3 linked regions of the Homo sapiens genome follow. The protein of the gene in region 1 interacts with the protein of each later gene in a pairwise test. Each region holds a gene or a part of one and is shown on either strand. Other genes may lie near its edges.

Region 1 (7,025 bases):
CAGCTACTCAGGAAGTGGAGGCAGGAGAATCACTTGAACCTGGGAGGCAGAGGTCACAGTGAGCCAAGATTGTGCCACTGCACTCCAGCCTGGGCGACAGAGTGAGATTCTGTCTCAAAATAATAATAATAATAATAATAATATATTTTTTAATTAGCTGGACATGGTGGAACATGCCTGTAGTACCAACAACTTGGGAGGCTGAGGTGGGAGGATCTCTTGAGCCCAGAAAGTGGAGGTTGCAGTGAACTGAGATTGTGTCACTGCACTCCAAACTGGGCAACAGAGCAAGACCCTGTGTGAAAATAAATAAATAAATAAACAAATAAATAAATAAAATATGTAAAAAGTTAACATCAGTTTGGACATGGTGATTCACACCTGTAATCCCAGCACTTTGGGAGGCCAAGGTGGGTGGATCATTTGAGGTCAGGAGTTTGAGACCAGCCTGGTCAACATGGTGAAACCCTGCCTCTACTAAAAATACAAAAATTAGCCAGGTGTGGTGGCAGGCACCTGTAGTCCCAGCTTCTTGGGAGGCTGAGGCAGGAGGATCACCTGAACTGGGAGGTGGAGGTTGCAGTAAGCCAAGATGGCGTCACAGCACTCCAGCCTGGGCAACAGAGTGAGACTCCATCTCAAAAAAAAAAAAAAAAAAAAAAAGGCCAGTCGCGGTGGCTCACACCTGTAATCCCAGCACTTTGGGAGGCTGAGGCGGGCGGATCACGAGGTCAGGAGATTGAGACCATCCTGGCCAACATGGTGAAACCCCTGTCTCTACTAAAAATACAAAAATTAGCTGGGTGTGGTGGCATGCACCTGTAGTCCCAGCTACTCAGGAGGCTGAGGCAGAAGAATTGCTTAAACCCAGGAGGCGGAGGTTGCAGTGAGCTAAGATTGCACCACTGCACTCCAGCCTGGCGATAAAGTGAGACTCTGTCTCAAAAAAAAAAAAAGTTAACATTAAATATCTTATTATCCTTGCATCAACTTTCATCGTAAGGTAGACCATTATATAAGAGATATATAACATATAAATTATATACACACATATATATCATTTCTACTTAGGTTCTTCAAATATCAGGTGCTCTACCATTTTGCTTTAAGTGAAAACTAAATAAAAAGGAGAAAATGGGGAGAAATTGCTTAATAGGTAGGAGATTTTACTTTGGAGTACTGGAACTGTCTGGAACTAGACAGAGGTGGTGGTTAGGCAACTTTGTGAATGCCACTGAATTGTTAACTTATTTTTTCGAGACCGAGTTTCGCTCTGTCACCCAAGCTGCAGTGCAGTGGCACAATCATGGCTCACTGCAGCCTCAACCTCCTGGGCTCCAGCAATCCTCCCACTTCAACCTCCCAAGTAGCTGGGACTACAGGCCAGTGCCACCACATCTGGCTAATTTTGGTTTTTCTGTTGTTGTTGTTGTTTGTTTGTTTGTTTCTAATAGAAACAAGGTTTTGCTATGTTGCCCAGGCTGGTCTCAAACTCCTAAGCTCAAGTGATCCTCCTGCCTTGGCCTCCCAAAGTTCTGGGATTACAGGCATGAGTCACTGTGCCTGGCAAGAATTGTTCACTTTTTTTTTTTTTTTTTTTTTGAGATGGAGTCTCACTCTGTTGTCCAGGCTGGAGTGCAGAGGCACAATCTTGGGTCACTGCAACCTCGGCCTCCAGAGTAAAAGCGATTCACCTGCCTCAGCCTCCTGAGTAGCTGGGACTACAGGTGCGCACCACCATGTCTCGCTAATTTTTGTATTTTTGGTAGAAATGGAGTTTCATTATGTTGGCCAGGCTGGTCTTGAACTCCTGACCTCAGATGATCTGCCCACCTTGGCCTCCCAAAGTGCTGGGATTACAAGAATGAGCTACTGTGCCCAGCCAGGAATTGTTCACTTTTAAATAGTTTTATGTTATGTGAATTTCACCTTGATAAATTTTCTTAAATTTAAAAAACCTAAATGATACATTTCTCCCCTCTATTATACTTAATGTATATTATTTCAAAATACTAGCATGTTATCTTTATTGATACATGTGCTCTTAATACAAAAATCATCATTACCTGCATTGTCAGACTTCAGCATTTTAATTTCTTCTGTTTTCACTTTCAAATTCTCTTTGAGGACTGCATTTTCACAGTTTAGCCTGGAAAAAAGTGGCTTTCAAATAACTAAAACATTAATATTTCCTTGCTGAGCGAGAATATTTTTATTGCCATAATTGGAACACAAAAATCTAAATATAGTTTTTCCTACTTCAAAATAGTCTGGAATTTACACGTATCACAAAAATAAAAACAATTTAAAGGAATGTGGTAAGAATTTTTTTTTTTTTTTTTGAAATGGAGTCTCACTCTGTCGCCCAGGCTGAAGTGCAGTGGCACAATCTCAGCTCACTGCAACCTCCACCTCTTGGGTTCAAGTGATTCTCCTGCCTCAGCCTTCCAAGTAGCTGGGATTACAGGTGTCTGCCACCACACTTGGCTAATTTTTGTATTTTTAGTAGAAACGGGATTTCACCATGTTGGCCAGGCTGGTCTCGAACTCCTGACCTCAAGTGATCAGCCCGCCTCAGCCTCCCAAAGTGCTGGGATTACAGTTGTGAGCCATCATGCCCGGCCAGGATTTTAAACATACCCTTTTTTTTTTTTTTTCTTTTTGAGACGGAGTCTTGCTCTGTTACCTAGGCTGGAGTGCAGTCATGTGATCTCGACTCAGTGCAACCTCCGCCTCCCAGGTTCAAGTGATTCTCCTGCCTCAGCCTCCTGAGTAGCTAGGATTACAGGCGCCCGCCACCACGCCCGGCCAATTTTTGTGTTTTAGTAGAGAAGTGGTTTCATCATGTTGGCTGGGCTGATCTCAAACTCCTGACTTCAAGTGATCTGCCCACCTCGGCCTCCCAAAGTGCTGGGATTACAGGCGTGAGCCACTGCGCCTGGACTAAACATACTCTTAACCCTTCTTAGCTGAGACATAATCAGAACCAGAAATATTTTTAAACCATCCATTTTGCATACTCATTCTCTTTACTTAATAACCATTTGAATTTCAACTATATGCTTAGGTCACCTTCAGAAACTTACATACACAGGTCCTCATGTAAACTATGGACTTCGGGTAATAATGATGTATCAACATTGGTTATAAAAAATGTACCACTCTGGTGGGGGATGTTGTCAGTGGGGGAGGCTGTGTATATGGGAAATCTCCGTACCTTCTGATCAATTTTGTTGTGAATCTACAACTGCTCTAAAAAAAAAAAAACCAACAAAGTATTTCATGGAAAAAAAAGATACATAGGGTACACCCATGTTCATAGCAGCATCATGCAAAATAGCCAAAAGGTAGAGTTAACTCAAGTGTCCATCAGGAATGAATGGATAAACAAAATGGCGTACATACATAACATGGAATATTATTCAGTCTTTCTGGTTTTTTTTTCTTTTTGGATACAAGGTCTCGCTCTGTCATCAAAGCTAGAGTACAGTGGCCCAGTCTCAGGTCCCTGTAGCCTCTACCTCCTGGGTTCAAGCGATTCTCCTGCCTCAGTCTCCTGAGTAGCTGGGATACAGGTGTGTGCCACCACGCCCAGTTAATTTTTGTATTTTTGGTAGAGACAGGGTTTCGCCACATTAGCCAGGTTGGTCTAGAACTCCTGGCCTCAAGTGATCCACCTGCCTCAGCCTCCCAAAATGCTGGGATTATGTAGAGAGCCGAAAGCCAGAGGATCGTGACCAACTTAGCATTCCACTGAGGCTATATGATCAAACAGCAAACTGTTTATCATGAATGCAGGATGTAGGCAAACTCACATCTGCACCTGCCGCCAGAAGGTTTGCTGAGGGCAGTCACTCTCTGGCGCCGTGCTCCTTGAGGTTATCTACTGGAACATCTGGAGACTACTGTTCAGAGAATGCAGTTGTGCAAGCCTGCACCGAGTCAAGCAGCTGACTGACAACCACCTCCTCCCTATCTCCTTTACTCAATAAATACGAAGGGTGCTAAAAGCTCAGGACCCTTGTTCACTGGAGCAAGGAGCCCCCTGACCCCTTCTTCCAAATATACTCTTTTGTCTTTATTTTTATTCCCACGTTCGTCTCCCTTTGTTCAGTCCAACAGGGATTGGGGCCACGATAGGATTGTGTGAGCCACCATACCCAACTGAAATGACTGACTTTATAGTAAGTGTATAATTTAAAGTTATTAAATAAACTCACACAAATAAAAGTTGTTCCAAAGATATTTTTTCTCTTTTTGGAGCTGATTGTCAGAACATAAACATTTACCATCTTAACCATCTTATTTTTCATCTTTTTTTTTTTTAACAAGATGAGGATCTTGCTATGTCATCTAGGCTGGTTTTGAACTCCTGAACCAAAGCAGTCCTCCCACCTCAGGCTCCCAAAGTGCTGAAATTACAGGTGTGAGCCATCATGCCCAGCCCCTCAAAAGATTTTGTTTGAAAAAAACAAATAGTTCCAATTCTAAAATAATTCTTACACTGTATTTTAAGATAGAGTTTATACTATTTTGGTTTTTGTTTTTTTGTTTTGTTTTATTTTTGAGACACGGACTCACTCTATCATCCAGGCTGAAGTGCAGTGGCGCAATCATGGCTCACTGCAGCCTCCAACTCCCAGGCCCAAGTGATCTTCACACCTCAGCTTCCCATGTAGCTGGGGCTACAGGTGCAAGCCACCACACCCAGTTACTTTTTGTATTTTTGTAGAGATAGGGTTTCAACATGTTGCCCAGGCTGGTCTCAAATTCCTGGACTCAAGTGATCCTCAGATCCAAGTGCCAAAGATTCCCAAAAGTGCTGGGATTAAAGGTGTGAGACACCACACCCAGCCTATGCTATTTTTTTTCTTTAAGGAAAATTAACACTAACAAAAATATGCGACTAGTAAGTGGATAAGCAATAAAAATTTTGTAATATTTTGCACTTGGCTCAAAGAAGAAAGCATAAATTACTTTTGAATTACATAGATTTTAAAGGTTGTCAAAGAAAAATAATGGAGTAATATACAAACCTGTCATATTTTTGGATCCAAGATTCCTCTATATTTTTAAATCTATTATGATCAAATTCTATTTCCCACTGCAAGGCATTTATTTCCTATGGAAAGAAAATAGTACCTTCATGGCAAATTACTACAAATAAATCATTTCAGGACATTGTGAATAGCTGAAATAAATCATATAATCAGTTCTCAGAAATGGTTTAAAGAGAAAAAATTAATTATTGCTCTAAAAGTATCTCTGACATTTGCAAACACATATAACATGCCTCTTTAGCATTCAAAACAACTCTGCCAAAACTCACTTAATATAGAAAAAATTTCAAATTGTTTGCCTTCAAAATTTGCTGGGCTGCTACACCTAGATTTCTCAGTGCCCACCTCCGCTGCATGTAGAGACCTCAAGCAAAATCCACTCCTGGAAATCTTAACTCAATGGTCCCATCAAGGGAGAACACACCAAGCACAGGAGACATGACCATCTAGGATGATTCCTAACTACCTTTATAGTGAAGATGAGATGGTCAGAAAGACGTACGTCCTGCCAGGCAACGATAAGGATTTAAAAAAAAAAATTTTTTTTAAGAAGAAAAATGGGCTGGGCACGGTGTCTCACGCCTGTAATCCCAGCACTTTGGGAGGCCAAGGTGGGTGGATTACAAGGTCAGGAGATCGAGACCATTCTGGTTAACATGGTGAAATCCTGTCTCTACTAAAAATACAAAAAATTGGCTGGGCGTGGTGGCGGGCACCTGTAATCCCAGCTACTTGGGAGCCTGAGGCAGGAGAATGGCGTGAACCCGGGAGGCAGAGCTCGCAGTGAGTAGAGATCGCGCCACTGCACTCCAGCCTGGGCGACAGAGCAGGACTCCATCTCAAAAAAAAAAAAAAAGAAGAAGAAATGAGAAGTACCAATTTGGCAGGCCTCCTACTACCTTAACATGGGGAAATAAAAATAACCTGAATTCATTGTGCACATGACAATCTGTTTTAGATTGTAAACTCCAAAAGGGAAGACCATCAGAACTGAAGCACACCTAGCAGAAGGTAGGCACAAGTGACAGATCCATTAGTATGGTGAGTTTAGGGAAATTATATTTAACAGCTTATTGGATTCAATAAGTCTACACTAAAAGCACCAAATACCTTCTCCAAGGATCTGTTTTGTTCCATAGTTTTTTGAAGCACTGCCTGCGTATGACTTGTGGCTTTGCCCAGTATTGCCTAAGAAAAATAAAACTAGCATCAGTATAAATTAAATTTGTAATCACTCCTATGTACATCATGAAGTTCTCTTTTATTTTAAGGCAATGGAAAATTAAGATGAATTGACATAAGAATTTCACAGTGACCACCTTTTATGGAGAGTCTGATAGTTCAAAAGTCAGGAGATCTTGGTTTGGCTCTTTTCCAATGAATGTGGGAATTAATGGATGAATTTTCCACACAAAGAAAGTGTTCAGAACAGTACTATTCATCAGTCAAAAAGTGGAAACCATCTGATACGGTTTGGCTCTGTGTCCCCACCCAAATCTCATTTTGAATTGTACTCTCATAATTACCACATGTTGTGAGAGGACCCGGTGGGAGATAATCTGAATCATGGGGGTGGTTTTCCCCATACTGTTCTCATGGTAGTGAATAAGTCTCAAGAGATCTGTTGATTTTATCAGGGGTTCTGCTTTTGCATCTCTCTCATTTTCTCTTGCTGCTGCCATGTTATAAGTGCCTTTCGCCTCCCACCATGATTCTGAGACCTCCCCAGCCATGTGGAACTGTAAGTCCAATTAAACCTCTTTTTCTTCCCAGTCTTGGGTATGTCTTTATCAGGAGCATAAAAATGGACTAATACAGTAATTTGGTACCAGTAGAGTGGGGCATTGCTGAAAAGATACCCAAAAATGTGGAAGCTACTTTGAAACTGGGTAACAGGCAGAGATTGGGACAGTTTGGAGGGCTCAGAAGAAGACAGGAAAATGTGGGAAAGATTGGAACTTTCTA
Region 2 (7,025 bases), on another chromosome or scaffold:
CACAGGCTGGAGTGCAGTGGCATGATCTTGGCTCACTGCAACCTCTATCCCCTGGGTTCAAGCAATTCTCCTGCTTCAGCCTTCCAAGTAGCTGGGATTACAGACGTGAACCACCACACCTGGCTAATTTTTATATTTTTAGCAGAGACGAGGTTTCACCATGTTAGCCAGGCTGGTCTCGAGCTACTGAGCTCAAGTGATCCCCCCACCTCGGCCTCCCAAACTGCTGGGATTACAGGAGTGAGCCAGCACACCCACCCCAAAATCTGCATTTTAACAAGCCTCTCCAGGAGAATAATTTCCACATTAAAGTTTTAAAACCATTTGCTTAAATAATCTTAGATTATTTCTTCCTGTATTTTAAAAACCTGCTTATGGCTTCAGACTTTGGGAAATAAGGTGTACTTGGTTGGCTTATTAAGAAAAAAAAAGAATTTTAAGATGGTTTTGTGTCCTTTCCCCAGCACCAATCTCCCCCAGATAATCAACTTCTCAAGAGAAAAAAACAGTTTAAAAAAATTATTAAATTCATATTATTTACAGGTGCTTTCATTTCATTAAACCATGATAGAAAACCTTATAAAAACCTTATATCCCCCAAATTACAGATTTTTTAAAAACTGAGTTCAAAAGAGTTAAGGGGAAAGCCGACATTGGTGTCTAAGTTTACAGTTTTTGCTTCTTGAAGCAGGATCTTCATGCTTACACCTATTTCCTAGTAGGTAGCACAGGGCCTGGCACACAGTAAACAATCAACTCATCTTGCATTTAATAATTTTTTCACATCCTGTTTCAACAACAGAAACTTCTTTTTGCTTAATCAAGAGCATTTCATCCTGATTTAAAGAAGTGATATTCACAGTGCGCTGCCCATGCCGACCTTGCTAAGCTTGCTCCACACACCCTCCTATGCCCACCATGACCACTGTTCAGCAGATGGAAGATGATGCCTAGTGGACAGCAAAGGCCTTGATGAATACGTGAAGGAACTAGGAGTGGGAATAGCTTTGTGAAAAATGGGCACAATGGCCAAGCCAGAGTGTATCATCATTTGTGATGACAAAAACCTCACCATAAAAACTCAGAGCACTTAGAAAACAGCACAGTTTTCTCGTACCCTGGGAGAGAAGTTTGAAGAAACTACAGCTCATAGCAAAAAAACTCAGACTCTCTACAACTTTACAGATGGATCATTGGTTCAGCATCAGGAGTGGGATGGGAAGAAAAGCACAATAACAAGAAAATTGAAAGATGGGAAATTCATGGTAGACTGTGTCATGAACAATGTCACCTGTTCTCAGATCTATAAAAAAGTAGAATAAAAATTTCATCATCACTTTGGACAGGAAATAGCTATGAAAATCAACAAGCTCAGTTCAATGGGCAAATCTCCATACTGCTTCTTTTTTTTCATTACTGTGTTCAATTATCTTTATCACAAACATTTTACATGCAGCTGTTTCAGTATCAGATTAATTAGGATCATCCCTTTGGTTAATAAATAAATGTGTTTGTGCTAAAAAATAAAAAATAAAAAAATTAAGAAGTGATATTAACATAACCTACAAAGGATCAACTTTGGAAAATTAAATAAAGCCATGGAAAGGCAAATAAATCCTCCTCCCTTCCATCTTAGCTTATGCAGTAATTATTTATATACATATATTTATATTTATATATTTATATTTATGCATATATAAAACAAAACCAAAAAACTTGAAGTTAAGACAAAGCTTTTCCTTAGAAGTCCTCTTCTAAGGGGTTGGTTCAGGTGCTTTTCAAAGGGATAGCAGCAACTGATTTTTTTTTTTCTGCAAATTACACTGTGTTGAGTTAGGTGACCAACAATTTAAGGTAGGATTGATTTGGAGTTGCTGTCACCTATAGATAAGGCTTTCATGTAACACTTATAGTTTTGTAAATGTAATAATATGTCTTATGAAAAGAACAGTGTTTGATGGAGGACAATGAATAAGGTCTCCCACTTTTGCTATTATGATAGCAACGCCTAATATCTAATGTCCTTATCAAATAAATCACTGCAACTGGATATAATTAAGCTAACTAGATGTTTGGCAATTTTGTTTTCAATAAATGGCCCATTATATTCTATCAGAAGATCATTTCCAACTATCTTAGCTTTTAATTTATTATTTTTGAGTAGACTGAAGAATCATGGTAAGGACATATGTATATTGTCTACAATATATCTTAAAGTAATAGAACAAATTTTGATTCAGGGCAAACTGCATGCTATGACAACAGAATAAAAGGCAGGTAAAAATAAAAATAGACAAATAAAATGCAGTTTAGTCAACCCAATGTTTCAGTACCATTAAAATGTGTAAGCTTTTGTCATGAATTAGTTTTTAAAAATCTAAAAGAGTTGTCTTGTGGATTATAGTGCTGGGACTTAAACTGCATTTGCAGTAGGACTATTTTATTATTTCTTCAAACAGGAAACCACTGGCAATTCAGTGTGAAGTCATTTTCTATTTTTAAAATAATTGAATCTGAGACATAACTATTAGTATGACAGTTTCACAGAGCAAAAAATAAGATGAATAAGTGGGTCTGAAATGCTGGCTAATGGAGCAATACATTTCAAAATTACATATACATTTATGTGCTTCTCCGACCACTTACAGTTTCATTCATCATATCGTTTTTTGGCCATTTCCTAGAGAGTATTTCCAATTCTAATGTATTTCTAACAGAAATTTCATGCTGTGATCACTCCTTTGTAAGGTAGAGTTCTGTAATATTTCTGGTTTACATGAGCAGACTTTCTAGTAGGTATATGATGGCTGACTAAATATATTAATACTTTTATTTAGTCAGTAATCTGGATGTAAGGCACATAAATACCCCATATAAACAGGGAGCAGGCAGAAGCTTCCATCCTTCTTACAAGGCTGTGTGGCCTTCAGCAAGTCACTTAACTTACCTGAACCCTGAGTATTCCCATCTGAAAAAATAGGTTAAATTAGATTATCTGTTATAGTGCCTTTTTAATTTTATGTCTTATATTAACTATTTCTTAACTATATTTAATTTGAGCCAAGTAGGAATTAATGAAGAAAAATCTGAATTAAAGAATGTATTTTTAAAGAAATGTAATTTTTAAGTATTTTTTTTTCCTTCGAGATAGGGCCTTGCTCTGTTGGCCAGGCTGGAGTGCAGTAGTGTGATCACAGCTCACTGCAGCCTCGACCTCCCAGGCCCAAGCTATCCTCTGGCTTAGCCTTCTAAGTAGCTAGGATCACAGGTGTGCACCACCACACTCGGCTGATTTTTAGAATTTTTTGTAGAGATGAACTCTCTCTGTGTTGCCCAGGCTGGTCTCAAACTCCTGGGCTCAAGCAATCCTCCCACCTCTTCCTTCCAAAATGCTAGGATTATAGGTGTGTGCCACCGCATTCAGCCCAAGTTTTAAACTTTAAAATTGCATAGGACCTGGAACTGGGTAAACAAATTAATGTCATTTGTATGTAAACAGATGTTTTAAAAATATATAACCATGCTCTAAAGTAGTTTTAAATTTTCTTCCTAATTTTGTTTATAAGGTTTTTATAGTAAAATCTTTGTAATACAAAAATAACATTTTCTAGGCAGGTGCGGTGGCTCACACCTGTAACCCAGCACTTTGGGAGGTGAAGGCTGGTGGATCACTTGAGCTCAGGAGTTCGAGACCAGCCTGGCCAACATGGCAAAACCCCATCTCTACTAAAAATACAAAAATAAGCTGGGCGTGGTGGCGCACACCTGAAATCTCAGCTACTCGAGAGGCTAAGGCAGGAGAATCGCTTGAATCCAGGAGGCAGAGACTGCAGTGAGCTGAGATCGTGCCACTGCACTCCAGCCTGGGCAACAGAGCAAGACTCTGTCTCAAAAAAACAAACAAACATTATTTATAAAATCTCCTCACTATGTCATTACAGAACTTAGCAAATTGGTAGTAAAACTTCTGTGGAAGAATAGCCAGCAGATAAATGTTTTAAAAGTACAGATGGTTAGCTTGCCCTATTAGATTAAAACTCACAGTTATCGAAAACATGAATTATAGAAATCAGAACAGCATCTGATTGTGGGAGGATTGACTGGGAAAGGACATACAGGAACTTTTTAGAGTGATAAAAATATTCAGTATCTTAATCTAAAAGTGCATACATAAAGGTGCTCACTTTGTAAAATGTTATCAAGCTAAAGACAAATTAATGTACTTAATAGAGTATGTTATATATCAACTTTTTAAAAAGGTTTTAAAAGTTGGATCCACCGATAGTTTTTTCAAAAAGAATTTCAATTCCTTTATTAATTGAAAGCTAAATAAATTCCAAGATCCATCTGCAATGTAGGAAGTAACTTATGCTCTAACTATGATACTCAAAAAGAAGAGAAATGAGTGGGAAAACAAAACAAAACATATGGCTGAGTTTTGTGTAGTGTTATGTGAGGTAATTTCCTGTTATTTCTCAGGGTTTTTGGAATTGGATTTGTGTTTCCTTTGGATGCCACACTATGCTGTGATGGATATTCAGACTGAGCAAATCAACCCTATTATGTTCTGGTTATCCAATAGATTATAAGCTTCTAGAAAAGAGAACATTTTTTTCATGTATATTTTTGTATCCTCCAATGCTAATGGACAAGTTTTTAGTACTTAATTGGCACTCAATTTGTTAAATTGGATTTCAAATATGTAGGATAAAAAATTAGCATCAAAAATGTATTTTAAAAGGAAATATATCAAAATTTGATAGAAAAATAAGACTTGATGAGTGATCACATTAGTTAAGTGGTCGAGTATACCAGCTAGATATATACTGTGAATCATCACATAGAATAATGAAGCATCAGTGGAAATTTTTTAAAATGAAAATTAAAATAACTGTAGTTATAAATGACAAATAAAAGAATAGTGTTGGCTGGGTGCGGTGGCTCATGCCTGCAATCCCAGCACTTTGGGAGGCCGAAGTGGGCAGATCTCTTGAGCCCAGGAGTTCAAGACCAGCCTGGGCAATATGGTGAAACCTCATCTCTACAAAAATACAAAAATTAACCAGGAGTGATGGTACACACCTATAGTCCCAGCCACTTGGGAGGCTGAGGTGGGAGGATCACCTGAGCCCAGGGAGGTCAAGGCTGCAGTAAGCCATAATCGTGCCACTGCACTCTAGCCTGGGTGACAGAGTGAGACCCTCCCTCAAAAGAAAAAAAAAAGAGTAGTGTTATGCCTATGCCAAGAGAAAGCAAAATTTTATTTATTTATTTATTTATTTATTTATTTATTTATTTATTTATTTATTTGAGACAGAGTATCACTCTGTTGCCCAGGCTGGAGTGCCATGGTGCAATCTTGGCTCACTGCAACCTCTGCCTTCTGAGTTCAAGCAATTCTCATGCCTCAGCCTCTTGAGTAGCTGGGATTACACGGGTATGCCACCACTCCCAGCTAATTTTTGTATTTTTAGTAGAGATGGGGCTTCACCATGTTGGTCAGGCTGGTCTCAAACCCCTGACCTTAAGTGATCCACCTGCCTCGGCCTCCCAGGTGCTGGGATCACAGGGTGTGAGCCACCACGTCCAGCCAAAATTTCACTTTAAAATTAAATTAGAAATCAATAAAAATCCTATGAAACTCTTAAAAGTGCTCTAAAGTAACTCTCAGAATTGCTGCGAAATTCCTCAGTATTTTCTCATCCTCTACATGGTTTTTTTTACATTATTGACATCCAAAATAATTTCTAAATGATTTCTCATGATATTTTGTTGTCATATTAATTATTAATAGTGACAAGATATTTTTCTTGTTTTTATCACAATTACACAATATTTGCATGGATTAAATCAATCTTTTGTTTGCCTAGCCTGGGTACTTCACTTAAACTAATGTTTTTATGAAAACACGGACTTTATATTAAAAACAGTTCCAAACATGGAGGAAAGAGCTCCAAGCTCCAATAGGTTAGAAAGGTGGTAAGTGATGGGCCTTATAGGAGTTAAAATTATTATTCTTGAACAGCTCAAAAGTTTGATTTCTGTGAACTGACTGCAGTACCATCTAAGACATAAGCATCCCTAAAGAGTTGAACTTGGCTATAATCAAGCCTCTAGAGCCAAATTCAGTTTACAGAGAATAAAGGAACAAGTTAAATGATATGAGAAGGAAGTAATTGACAAATTCGGAACGTTGGACATTTCTGCTGCATAACTGATCCAGTTTCTGCAACAAGTAAATGGCAGGGAAAAAAGAAGGGAAGACTGCACCAGTTTAAAATAGACAAAAAGAGAAAACACAACTGAATGCAATGTGTGTTGGATCCTTATTCTCAAAATCAACTGTAAAAATACATTTTAGAGACAATCAGGAAAATTTTGTTATGGAGTTGTTAATTACATGATGCCAAATGATAGTTATTAATTTTGTTAGGTGCAGTCACGGCAATGTGACTATGTAAGAATATGTTCATATTTTTTCAGATGCACAATAAAATATGTAAGTGAAATAATATGATATCTGGGCTTAAAATATTTTTACAAGAAAAATACGAGAGATGTGAGTCAAATGTGGCAAAATTTTGATAAATGTTGAATATGGGTGACAGGTAAGTGGGAGTTCATTGGCGTGTGTTTTAAAATAGTCACAATAAAATTTGTAAAAGGCAAAAGCAAAAAAGGATTCATATCTACTTCTTTGAAGTAATAAAAATGATTTTAAAAAATATTGATGGGGGCCGGTTGTGGTGGCTCATGCCTGTAATCCCAGCACTTTGGGAGGCTGAGGCGGGCAGATCACCGGAGGTCAGGAGTTTGAGACCAGCCTGGCCAACATGGTGAAACCCCATCTCTACTAAAAATACAAAAAATTAGTGGGCATGGTGGCTCACGTCTGTAATTCCAGCTACTTAGGAGGCTGAGGCACGAGAATCACTTGAACCCTGGAGGGAGAGACTGCAGTGAGCTGAGATCATACCACTGCACTCCAGCCTGAGCAACAGAGGGAGACTGTCTCAAAAAAAAAA
Region 3 (7,025 bases), on another chromosome or scaffold:
CCGAGGCGGGTGGATCACTTGAGGTCGGGAGTTCGTGACCAGCCTAGCCAACATAGCGAAACCCCGTCTCCACTAAAAATACAAAAATTAGCTGAGCGTGGTGGTGCGCACTTCTAATCCCAGCTACCTGGGATCACTCACAGTGATCTTGCAGTGAGCCAAGATCACACCACTGCACTCCAGCCTGGGCGACAGAGTGAGACTCCGTCTCAAAAAAAAAAAAAAAAAAAAAAAAGTTCCCAGATGCCAGCCAAGGGTGAACCTTGCACACAGGCTGTTCTTAGGGCAGCAGTCTCAGGCCTGCTGTGTTACATTAATTGGTTTTGCATGTTGATGCATTCCTGGGATAAATCTTACTTGGTCATGGTATATAATCCTTTTTTATGTTGCTGGATTCTGTTTGCTGGTATTCTACGTTCCTAAGAAATACTGGTCTGTAGTTTTCTCTTTGTGATTCCTTTGCTTGGTTTTGATATCAGGGTGATACTGGTCTTAGAGAATGAGCTGGGGCCAAGCATTGCGGCTCATGCTTGTAATGCCAGCACTTTGGGAGGCCAAGGCAGGTGGACTGATTGAGCCCAGGAGTTGGAGACCAGCCTGGACAACATGGGAAAACCCCGTTTCTACTAAAAATAGAAAAATTAGCCAGGCGTGGTGGTGCGTGCATGTAGTCCCAGCTACTCAGGAGGGTGAGGTTCAAGTGAGCTGAGATGGCACCACTGCACTCCAGCCTGGGTGTCAGAATGAGACTCTGCCAGAATGAGGTCCATAGTAAGGTCTCATCTTTATTCCTGATTTTAGTATTTTCAGTATTCTTGCTTTTCAATTTTTTTGATCTGTAGATAGAGCTAAATATTTGTCAATTTTATTGATCCTTATACAGAACCAACTTTTGGTTTCATTTATTATTTATTTCCTTCCTTCTGCTTCAGTTTTTTTTTTTTTTTTTTTTTTTTTTTTGAGATGAGTCTTGCTCTGTCGCCCAGGCTGGAGTGCAGTGGCGCAATCTCGACTCACTGCAACCTCCACCTCCTGGGTTCAAGCAATTCTCCTGCTACAGGCTCCCACCACCACGCCTGGCTAATTTTTCTATCTTTAGTAGAGATGGGGTTTCACCATGTTGGTCAGGCTGGTCTTGAACCCGTGGTCTCGTGATCTACCTCCCTCGGTCTCCCAGTGTGCTGGGATTACAGGTGTGAGCCACCACGCCCAGACTTTTAGTTCTTTTTTTTTTAGTTTTTCTATTTTTTGTGGAGATGAGGTCTTGCCCATGCTAGTATGGAACTCCTGGGCTCAAGCGATCCTCCCACCCTAGCCACCCAAAATGCTAGGATTACAGGTGTGAGCCACCATGCTTGGCCCTGTTTATTCATTTAGAGATGGGATCTTGCTCTGTCTCCCAGGCTGGAGTGCAGTGGTACAATCATGCTTCACTGCAGCCTCAATCTCCCAGGTTCAAGCGATACTACCAGCACATGCTACCATGACTGGCTGAGTTTTTGGCAGAGACGAGGTCTCACCATGTTGCCCAGGCTTCTTCCTTTTTAATAGAAGTGTTTTTAGCTATAGATTTCCCTCTAAGCACGGCTTTCAGTGCATCCCATAAGTTTTATTTCAAAGTATTTTATAATTATCTTCTTTGGCTCATTGTTTTGTTTGTTTTAAATTACACACAGGGTCATGCTCTGTTGCCCCAACTGGTTTCAAACTCCTGGGCTCAAGTGATCCTCCTGCCTCTGCCTCCCAGAGTGTTGAGATTACAGGCGTGAGCCACCATGCCCAGTCTGACTCACTGGTTTCTTATAAGTGTGTTCTTTAATTTCTACGTATTTCTGAGTTTCCCAAATTTCTCTGTTTTTGATTTGGTTTTTGTTTGTCACCTAGGCTGGAGTGCAGTGGCACAATCTTGGCTCACTGCAACCTCTGCCTCCCGAATAGCTTGGATTACATGCATGTACCACCATGCCTGACTAATTTTTGTATTTTTAGTAGAGATGGGGTTTCACCATGTTGGCCAGGCTGGTCTCGAACTCCTGACCTCAAATGATCTGCCTGCCTTGGCCTCCCAAAGTGCTGGAATTACAAATGATCTGCCTGCCTTGGCCTCCCAAAGTGCTGGAATTACAGGTATGAGCCACTGTATCCAGCCGTGAAAGGACTGAAATGATACAAAGTATGTTCTTTGACCATAGTGGGATGTAATTACAAACCAATAACAAGGCTGGGCACAGTGGCTCTTGCCTGTAATCCCAGCACTCGGGAGACCCGAGACAGGAGGATCATTTGAGGTCAGAAGTTTGAGACTCAGCCTGGCCACCATGATAAAACCCTATCTCTACTGCAAATACAAAAATCAGCTCGGTGTGGTGGTACATGCCTGTAATCCCAGCTACTCAGGGGGCTGAGACAGGAGAATTGCTTGAACCCGGAAGGTAGAGTTTGCAGTGAGCTGAGATCATGCCGCTGTACTCCAGCCTGGGCCACACACAGACTCCATCTCAAAAAATAAAATAATGGACTCTTGCTTTATGGCCTGGCTGTGGTTGAGAAGAACCTGAATTCTGCTGCTGGCAGCTTCCCTCTTGTTCTCTCTCTGTCCCATGGCTGTCATGTGAAGGATGCTCAAGTGGGCCCAAGGAGGGGTCCCTATGGTGAGGAGCAGGGCCTCCAGCCTCACTTGGGCCTTCAGATGACTGCCACCCTGGCTGACAAATTCTCTTCAACCTCAGGAGTCAGAACCACCCAGCCCAACCACTCCCATAATGTTGACCCACAAAAGCTGAGACAGCAAATATTTGTTGTTTTAAGCCCACTACGTTTTGTTGTAATTGGTCATGCACCATTAGATAACAAATACAATTACCCATAAATCTGCTGGCTTTCAGGAGAACACGTCTTGAAGCACAGCTGAACTTGAATCTTTTCTGTGGAAAAATAATTGAAAATATGAATTAATAATTCTTCTCTTGTTGAAGCTGACAGAACCAAGGACACACACCTTGTTAACGACGCCCTCAAGGCTGTGAGGAGAAAGACAACCGGGTGAAGCAACGCTGGGAATTCAACGCATCAATTACCTTCCCAGGTAACAGCAGCTACTTGAGCTCCTAAGAGTTGACCTTCAGCTGCTGTCATGGAAAATAGTGGGGGTCAACTAGACATCAAAGATGAAAGGCCAGGCCTCCAGCACAACTTTCTCTGTAAGCTCGATAGTGGCTTTCTCAAAGAAATCCTTTTCTCAAAAAAATTTCTTGTAAAGACAGGGTCTTGTTCTGTCACCCAGGCTGGACTGCAGTGCATGGCTCACTGCAGCCTCAACCTCCCGGGCTAGAGTGATCCTCCCCTTTTCTGAGGAGCTCAGACCACAAGCGTGCACCACTGTGCCCAGCTGATTTATAAACTTTTTTTTTAGAGACAGGGTTTCACCATGTTGGCCAGGCTGTTTTCTTTCAAGGTTTCACCATGTTGGCCAGGCTGTTTTCTTTTCTTCTCTTTTTTTGAGATGGAGTTTCACTCTTGTTGCCCAGGCTGGAGGGCAGTGGCGCGATCTTGGCTCACTGCAACCTCCGCCTCCCAGGTTCAAGTGATTCTCCTGCCTCCCAAGCAGCTGGGATTACAGCGTAGCTGGGATTACAGGCATGCGTCACCATGTCCAGCTAATTTTGTATTTTTAGTAGAGACGGGGTTTCTCCATGTTGATCAGGATGGTCTCGAACTCCTGACCTCAGGTGATCCGCCTGCCTCAGCCTCCCAAAGTGCTGGGATTACAGGCGTGAGCCACTGTGCCTGGCCAACTTGGATTTGTTACTGTTATACAGGACATGGCCCTTAATATTCACATGAATGACAGTGAGACACACAATGCTTTCTAAAGATTGGTTTTGGCCGGGTGTGGTGGTGCACACCTGTAATCCCAGTTACTCGGGAGGCTGAGGCAGGAGAATCACTTGAACCCAGGAGGCAGAGGTTGCAGTGAGCCAAGATGGCTCCATTGCACTCCAGCCTGGGCAACAAGAGCAAAACTCTGACTCAAGAAAAAAAAAAGGTTGGGCACAGTGACTCACGCCTGTAATCCTAGCACTTTGGGAGGCCAAGACAGGCGGATCACGAGGTCAGAAGATCAAGACCATCCTGGCTAACATGGTGAAACCCCGTCTCTACTAAAAATACAAAAAATTAGCTGGGCTTGGTGGCAGGCACCTGTAGTCCCAGCTACTCGGGAGGCTGAGGCAGGAGAATGGTGTGAACCCGGGAGGCGGAGCTTGCAGTGAGCCGAGATCGCGCCAGTGCACTCCAGCCTGGGCAACAGAGCAAGACTCAGTCTCAAAAAAAAAAAAAAAAAAAAAAACAAAGACTGGTTTCACATTCTGTTTATATGAATAATTTGTGTGTGCACAAAAGCAGTCTGCTCAGTGGGTGCCTGGCCTGGGGCATCAGTTCTGAGCTGGAAGAGATGAGGATGCCCACAGCCCTGCCTCTGCCCCACAGCCTGCCTGTACCTGGGTCCTCCTGCTGGGCCGTGGTGGGGAGCCGCTCCCGTTGCCTCAAGGCCTCCAGGCCTGCCAGGTCAGGCTGATGGCAGTGGCTGCGCATGACCATGATGCGGTGGCCCTGGGTTATGGCGCGGCTGCGGCAGCCCAGCCGAGCCTGGTCCCGGCACATCCAGTACACCTTCTCCCCAGCCGCCTTCTCCTTCCTGTAGAGGAAGGACTCGTGCACCAGGAACCTGCCCCCCAGGGAAGTCCTCAGGAACTCCAGGGGCCGGAGAGGATCTGAAAGGGAAAGTGACACTGTGAGTGGGGCCACAGGGGCCTGGGTGGCAGGGCTGGGGGTCTGATTTGTATCCCCCAGCCAGGCCCCACCAGGAATCTGCGATCCCCTAGCACGCTGCACGGTGGTCCCTGCCCTCCTCCCCTCTGGGCCCTGCAGCCCAGACTCCCACGCTGGCTGGCCCTTTCCAAGGGCTCTGGGGATGACTGGGCACGTGGCCTGGCAAGCACTGGACCCTGAATGCTCCTGAAGGACTCTCCCAACCCCTCAGACCTCATGCTTGCAGGTGCATCCCCCAGGGCAGGGGCTGAGCCTTTCTGGGCTGGGCACCAGGGCCTCCTGGCTCCCTGTCCACCTACCCCTCAGCCAGCTGGCAGCTGACTTTTAACAAGCTGAACTAAAAGGTCACATGATGTTGGGGTGGCCAGAGAGAACCCCGTGAGACTAGAAGCAGTGTGGGTGGCGTGGGGGTAGACCAAGAGTGTCCAGGATCCACCGTACGGCCCGTCAGCAGATGCCAAGCACTCTCTGTGGCTGCCAATGCCACCCCTGGCCACCATCCTCTTCCTCTAGAGAGCTGAGTGGGTTTCTACCTCCGACAGCCAGTCCCCACTACCCAGAGGACCAGCTGCAGGAGCTCGGAGCCCGCAGATGGAGCCTCCTGCCCCTGGGGAGTTTATGGCCCCGGCTGTCAGACCACCATGCACAACACACAACACCCCACGGGCAGCCTCCAGCCAGCGTGTGGGGCACAGGTCCTGGGAGACCAGGCAGACCCAGCCCAGCACCCTCCACACGCACCTGGGCTGTCCCACTGCGCCAGGTTGGGGAAGTGCTCCCGCTGCCGCAGGGCCTCCAGGCCGCCCAGGTCCGGTGGGTGGCAGTGCCTGCGCATGACCATGACCCGCCGGCCCTGGGTGATGGCGCGGCTGCGGCAGCCCATGCGGGCCTGGTCCCGGCAGGTCCAATACACCTTCTCCCCGGCCGCCTTCTCCCGCCGGTAGAGGAAGGACTCGTACACCAGGAAGCTGCCCCCCAGGGGCGTCTTCAGGAACTCGGGGCCTCCTGTTGAGAAATGGGAGGGGAGGAGCAGCGGACACCAGCTCTCAGAGCCCAGATCAGCATGGCCCCGAGATGAGACCTCCCACAACGCCCACACCTCCTCCTCACAGTGAGGTGGCCCCGGAGCCCAGGACACAGATGCCACCATCCCCCCAACTCTGCTGGGGCTCCAGCTGCTGGGGTCCGCCTCCTGAGGCTGGGGACTGGTCAGGTGAGGCCCCTGCAGGTGGCGGCCAAGCGTCCCACCTTGCCATGCCTTCAGGGAGGCAGTGTCTGCTGCGTCACTCGTCCGTCCCCAGCACCCGCCCAGGCTTGCATGCAGGGTGCGCCGTGCCTGGTTGGTCAGAGGAATGACCCGGGGCCCTCTGGGGACAAAGCTGCTCAGGAGCCGGATGGGGCTGAGAGGGGTGGCCCCCGAGAGCCGCGCAGGTAGAGGTGTGACCCCAGGACTCTGAGGAAGAGGCAGGGAGCAGCGTCCACTGTCCTGGATGTGGTGAGAGGGAGGACCTGGCGGGTGGCTGTGCCTTGCCCAGAGGATACCCTTTCCTCCGTGCAGGCTCAGGGGCCACAGAGGTGGGGAGGTGGCCTGGGGCATCGTGGACACATCGGGTGGCAGTGGAAGCAGGGGATGGGGGTGGGTAGCAAGCCCTAGAGGAGAGGCCAGCGGGGGGCGGGAGGGTGTCTGGCTGTGGAACTACCTTCAAGAGGGATGGAGAGGGCTGGGCAGGGGCCATGTGGAGCAGGGAGGCTCGGGAGGCAGGAGGACCCTGAGGGGCACAGCAGCACAGGAGCCTGGGGACCACGAGACAGAAGAGGTCAGGACGAAGGTGGGGACGCCAGGCCACGGGAGGGGGTGGTGTGACCATGGGGCACGCTTTATCCCCTTCCACACGGATGAAAATATCCAGCAAGGGGCTGCGCACGGTGGCTCACGCCTGTAATCCCAGCACTTTGGGAGGCCGAGGCAGGCGGATCACGAGGTCAGGAGTTCAAGACCAGCCTGGCCAACATGGTGAAACCCCATCTCTACTAAAAAAATACAAAAAATTAGCTGGGCGTGGTGGTGTGCACCTGTAATCCCAGCTACTCAGAAGGCTGAGACAGGAAAATCACTTGAACCTGGGAGACAGAGGTTGCAGTGAGCCAAGACCACGCCACTACACTCCAGCCTGGGCGACAAGAGTGAAACTGTC

Evidence for each region. Proteins that work in one complex are often made in the same cells at the same time.
Region 2: the proteins of CCDC125 (region 1) and SPMIP2 interact in binary tests that used the Homo sapiens proteins (3 or more experiments, as listed by UniProt).
Region 3: the proteins of CCDC125 (region 1) and FLYWCH1 interact in binary tests that used the Homo sapiens proteins (3 or more experiments, as listed by UniProt).

Annotation. Positions count from the first base shown.
Region 1 is NC_000005.10:69,301,781-69,308,805, forward strand, and holds part of CCDC125 (coiled-coil domain-containing protein 125), read right to left. Parts: intron 6,249-7,025; coding exon 6,171-6,248; intron 5,123-6,170; coding exon 5,037-5,122; intron 2,150-5,036; coding exon 2,067-2,149; intron 1-2,066. UniProt on the Homo sapiens protein: May be involved in the regulation of cell migration.
Region 2 is NC_000004.12:159,025,205-159,032,229, forward strand, and holds part of SPMIP2 (protein SPMIP2), read right to left. Parts: intron 1,521-7,025; exon of another isoform or gene 859-1,520; intron 1-858.
Region 3 is NC_000016.10:2,935,931-2,942,955, reverse strand, and holds part of FLYWCH1 (FLYWCH-type zinc finger-containing protein 1), read right to left. Parts: exon of another isoform or gene 6,699-7,025; coding exon of another isoform or gene 6,531-6,698; intron 6,317-6,530; coding exon of another isoform or gene 5,836-6,316; coding exon 5,572-5,835; intron 4,773-5,571; coding exon 4,500-4,772; intron 4,494-4,499; exon of another isoform or gene 2,976-4,493; intron 2,925-2,975; coding exon 2,864-2,924; coding exon of another isoform or gene 2,860-2,863; exon of another isoform or gene 2,795-2,859; intron 1-2,794. UniProt on the Homo sapiens protein: Transcription cofactor. Negatively regulates transcription activation by catenin beta-1 CTNNB1, perhaps acting by competing with TCF4 for CTNNB1 binding. May play a role in DNA-damage response signaling.